2 separate regions of the Homo sapiens genome follow, and region 2 is linked to region 1. Evidence: fine-mapped expression QTL. A gene starts in region 1. The other region holds a variant in brackets. All regions are shown on one strand. Distances are between the middles of the regions.

Region 1 (2,826 bases):
GACATGCAAAATTGTTAAAAATGTCTTCTATAAGAAACCCTGGCTCTTCCCCCCTCTTGGACAACAAAGGAACAACAAAGAATATCATTCTAAATTTTCCATTTCAGTGGAAATATGTTTAGTCTTAGTTTCTAAATATATATTTTCTTCTGGTAGGTGCTTTAGGATGACCTACCAAGTTGGGATTTAAGTTTTAAGAAAATGCGTTAGAAATAATTCTGAGCATATTTGAGTAACTGAGGCTAAGTAGACTTTTTTAGAGTGTTGCAAATTTTATTCTTCTGAAACTTTAGAAAAGTTTGCACCCTATAATCCTTTAACTGGTTACAGTTAAAAGGGGTAATGAAGCATATATTTTAATTCAGGTTTAGATGTCAGAGGAATCTAAGACACTAAAGAAGTGGGTCCATCGACAGGACAACAGATGGTATCTGGCACTGCAGTGGCAACTTGAACAGTTTCACATTTCACCCATCACCTTAATTTCTATCTTACCTTATGTCCTCTGTAAAAGGCAATTTCTTCTACATTGGCTATAATTCTCGAGTGCACATACCGCAAATAGCCTTTTCTATGTGCTTCCTCTGCCACCAGTTTGCCAAATTTGGGAGAACAGGCTTTTAACACTTTAGCAGTGGCATACACCACAAGTCCTGCTAGTAGGGTGGGCCCAATTGGGCTTGCTCCTCTGGATGTAGCAGTTTGAATGAGTGTATAGGAGGTCAGCATTACATCTAAAATAGGTTTGGTCAGATTGGAATACAAGTGAGCCACAGATTGGGAGAACATCATAATATCCTCCGTAAGAGATTGGTCAGGGTTTGCCAGCCTCCCATCCATATTGATCACTTTATAATAAGTCTGATTTGTAAAATAGGTTTCATAGGCGTGGTCTACTAGGCGAGTTCTGAAGGCCAAAGCCAATTTGCATTCCAGGTACCTTATTGCACTGTTGACGAAGGTAGCAGGGATGGCAATCATAAGCCACTTGATTAATTTGATGATGAAAGTCCGAGGCTTCTTTTCCACAATGCTTTTCACGATTTTTCCATCCAGACCAGCCACATAGATAGAAAGAAAGGTTCTTGAGATTAGAGCCACTGAGTGCAGGCAGAGCCACCCTGTTTCAGTGGTCACAAGTTTTGGAAACAAAATTTTCCGAAGTTCTAGTAGCTGTTTGAAGAAATCTGCATTCACTCCAGGCGAAGGTTTTTCACAAATGGTCTCGGTGCAATGCAGTATTTCTGTGTTCTCTGCAGCAGGGTAAGCTGCTGCTTTTTTCTTCCCGTGGCCAGATTGCTTTAAACGCTTGCCAATGATGGGATAGAGGGTTTTCAGAGCATATGCCGCAGCCACCAGGCAGGCAGCCCTCTTAGCAGCACTCGATCTGGTCCATTTCACTCGATCAGCTGCTGCATTTAGCATATGTGTCATTTTCCCAGTTACCCAAACCGGCTTCCAAAAGAATTCGTTTTAAAAGATCATGCTTCACAGAAATCCCCAGCAAATGTTTTAGAAAGTCCTACAGCGTCCCATAGTCTGCAGCGTTTCTCTTCCACTGTTGTGTTTTTAATTTTGTTCTGCTGTGACAGATGCAGCAGAGCTCAGACTCCGCTGCATCTACCGGGAATGATTCTCTCAGAAGCTCAAGCTGCACCAAGCTCCTCCCTCCCAGGCCCCTCATTGGCTGTGAGGGCGGTGGGACCTTGGAATCCTCGCAGCTTCCCTTTGAACCTTGAAAATGAGGAGAGAGCAAAGCGAATTACATCCTTCCTTAAACAGGAGTTCAGAGAGTTAAAATGTCTATTTTTGGAGAGGTCGAATCAGGCCATCTGCTGGCGAACAAAACCGGCTCTAGCTACTGAGCATGCTCAGTGTCACTTAGAAACCCACAGAAGTTTCAGAATATACATCACTTCGGTAAGATTTCAGTAGATACCGCAAACAGAAGAGCAAGCAGAAAGGGAGATTTCCAAGCGAACAAAACCGGCCCTAGCTACTGAGCATGCTCAATGTCACTTAGAAACCCGCAGAAGTTTCAGAATATACATCACTTCGGTAAGATTTCAGCAGCTACCGCAAACAGAAGAGCAAGCAGAAAGGGAGATTTGCAAGAGTTTTAATGAGACGAGGAGGGAGAAGGAACCACGAAAATGAGGGAGGAGGGACAAGAGGATCAACATAAAATGAATATGAAAAGGATATGGAATGAATCTGAAACGGATCAGAAAAGAAAGTGACAAGTGGGAGGGACACCGGAGAATGCCAAATATCAAATACACTTGGATCTGTTTTTCACAGATCCCCCCGGCTTTTTTGGGGGTCTGATTTCACAAAAGGTCTCAGAACCTAATAGACAAGTTGTAATCGAGGGTTTCCCTTGTAAATAAATAGGATAAAAGTCTTCCGTGTTACAGAAAATAATTATTTGCTATGCCTCTAGCCATTCTCCCTTTTTCCTCTGCATCCTACTTGTCCTTATGCTAAAAATCTTCCAGCCCCATAACTGGAGATCTGATGTACTCATATTTATTTACAAGGTGACGACTATTAAATAAATGAGAGCAATGTTTCATGTTTACTACTCCCATGTGTTAGGTAGTTTTTACTTGGAGTGGGGTAGCACTTATAGTGAAAGTTTAACCATTTGGGAATTCAGCTGGTGTTGGATGGTGGAAATAGCTTCTCTAGGACCTTACTTCATTTTTCAAGAATGCTTTGTCTTTTGCAGGTTTCTGCTTTGTTTGTTTTGTTTAGCTGTAGAGATAATCTACTGGCTACTTCCTATTTCCATTTGGTTATTTGATAAAAACTAAGAGTCTTAAA
Region 2 (2,826 bases), 190 kb after region 1:
GAAAGTCTGAACACAATCAGTGGATTGAAACAATATCAATCTCCTGGGTGAAACTATACCATAATTATGCAAGTTGTTATTCAGGGGAACTGGGTAAAGAGTACATGGGATCTCTACATTATTTCTTAAAACTGCATGTAAATATATAGTTATTTCAAAATAAAAACACTAATTGAAAAACAAGTAAAGGGTGGCTATAAGACTTGATAAATATCAGCTAGGCTACTCATTTGCTTTCAAAGGTACTGTTAAACCTGCAGGTAAGCTACAAGCAAATAAATCTGGTGATTAAAATGGATACATGATTTAGTTTTTCTATTTCTTTTTGTGTTTTGGAAATTTGTGTTATCAGGAATTTTGTCCATTTCTTCTAAGTGCACCCTTTCAATTATAATAATTATAATAATGGAGAGTTGGGTCTTCTCCCCCTAGGTGAGTCTAGCTATAAAAGTTGCCTAAGCCAACTTTTAATAATCGTACCAGGAGAATCTTGTCTGTGATGAAAAGTGTCATCAAATGCTGTTTGCTTAAAGTAGAATTAGTCTGCCCTTTGAAAATAGCTAGGAAGATATAATTTTGTATGCTATAATTCTTGGAAGTCAAGAAATCCAGTACTTTAATCATCTATTCATGTATAATATACAAAATATAAAGTGTACCAATTTTACGTGTAAGTCAATGAGTTTTGACAATGTATAAATCCATGTAACCACTACCACAGACAAGAGAGTAAACATTTCCATAACACCAAAAATTTCCTTCATGCCCAACTCCAGTCAATAACTGAGCTATTTCTGGTCAATAGAGATTGGGTTTGCTCTTCTAGAATTTTATATAAATACTTGTACAGTATATATTGTTTTGTATCTGGCTTTTTTGCCCAACACAATGTTTCTGAAATTGTACCAGGTTACTGGACATATCAGTAATTCCTTCCATCTATCTGGGTAGTATTTAATTATATGGGTGTATCATAATTTGTTTATCCACTCACCTGTTGAAGTAACATCTACGTAATTTCCAATTTTGTCCATTATGAATAAGGCTGCTATAAACGACTGTGTAGAAACATTTGTTGGACACATTTTATTTCATTTGACTAAATGTGTCATAATTGAATTACTGGGTTGTATGGAAAAGATGTGATTAACTTCAGAAGAAACCTCCAAACTGATTTCTGAAGTGTTTGTACCAATTTACATTCCCATTAACATGATGCTTCACAACCTCA[CCAACACT/C]TGATATTTTGACTTTTTCATTTTAGCTATTCTAGTTGGTGTGCTGTAGCATGTCACTATAATTTTTTTGCATTTCTTTAATGATTAATAATGTTGAACATTATATCTATGTGCTTATTTGCCATCTTTTTATAGTCTTTTGTGACTTGTCTGTTCAAATCTTTTGGCGTCTTTTGAAAGGTTGCTTTATTTATTTTAAGTTGTAAGAATTCTTTATTCATAATTCCTTTGTTAGATATACTTATTGTAAATAATACTTCCGGTCTGTGGCTTGGGCTTTGTATTCTCTTAACAATGTCTTTCAAAGAGTAGACAATTTTAATTTTAATGAACTCCAATATATCAATTTTTTCTTTTGTTGTGTGTGCTTTTTGTGTCCTATCTACTTGCTTACCCTGATGTCGCAAAGATTTCCTCCTATGTTTCCTTATAAATGTTTTATGATTTTAGCTTTTACTATTAGGTCTATGATGTATATTGAGCTTTTTTGTGTTTAGGGTGTAAGAGTTGAGGTCCATTCCCTCCACCTTCACCCGCAATGTAGATAGCCAACTGTATTAGGACCATTTGTTGAAAAGACTATTCTTTCCCCATTGGATTAATTTGGTTTTTTTATTGAAAATCAATTGGCCATGCATATATGGATCTATTTCTGGACTTTATTCTGTTCCCTTGATGTTTATGTCTATTTTACCAACATCACATTGTCTGGATTACTGTAACTTTATAGTAAGTCTTGAAATCAGATAGGGCATGTCTTTCTTTTTCAGGAATGTTTTGGCCATTCCAGTTCTTTTGCATTTCTATATAAATTTCAGAACGAGCTTGTCATTTTTTATAGAACTGTTTATAGGGATTATGATTAGAATTACTTGAGTTGATCTAGAGATCAACTTAAAAGGAACTGACATCTTTTTTAAAAATTATTATTATACTTTAAGTTTTAGGGTACATGTGCACAACGTGCAGGTTTGTTACATATGTACACATGTGCCCTGTTGGTGTGCTGCACCCATTAACTCGTCATTTAGCATCAGGTATATCTCCTAATGCTATCCTTTCCCCATCCCCCCACCCCACAACAGTCTCTGGTGTGTGATGTTCCCCTTCCTGTGTCCATGTGTTCTCATTGTTCAGTTCCCACCTATGAGTGAGAACATGCGGTGTTTGGTTTTTTTGTCCTTGCGATAGTTTGCTGAGAATGATGGTTTCCAGCTTCATCCATGTCCCTACAAAGGACATGAACTCATCCTTTTTTATGGCTGCATAGTATTCCATGGTGTATATATGCCACATTTTCTTAATCCAGTCTATTATTGTTGGACATTTGGGTTGGTTTCAAGTCTTTGCTATTGTGAATAGTGCCGCAATAAACATATGTGTGAATGTGTCTTATAGCAGCATGATTTATAATCCTTTGGGTATATACCCAGTAATGGGATGGCTGGGGCAAATGGTATTTCTAGTTCTAGATCCCTGAGGAATCGCCACACTGACTTCCACAATGGTTGGACTAGTTTACAGTCCCACCAACAATGTAAAAGTGAAGAACCGACATCTTAACCATATTAAGTCTTCTTATCCACGA

What was found.
Region 2: its variant is fine-mapped to the expression of ABCD2 in whole blood (TOPMed, PIP above 0.99).

The regions. Positions count from the first base shown.
Region 1 is chr12:39,618,182-39,621,007 of GRCh38, forward strand. It overlaps ABCD2 (ATP binding cassette subfamily D member 2), which reads right to left and starts at 1,622. Exons shown (of 10, transcript NM_005164.4): 1 at 496-1,622. The coding sequence starts at 1,434. RefSeq lists enhancers at 1,024-1,103, 1,414-1,933.
Region 2 is chr12:39,807,353-39,810,178 of GRCh38, forward strand. All of the region lies in intron 7 of SLC2A13 (solute carrier family 2 member 13), which reads right to left. It also overlaps a transcript of REDIC1 not described here. Among named protein-coding and RNA genes, the nearest start is that of REDIC1, 180 kb to the left of the region's middle. The variant CCAACACT/C (reference allele first, on the strand shown) is at 1,232.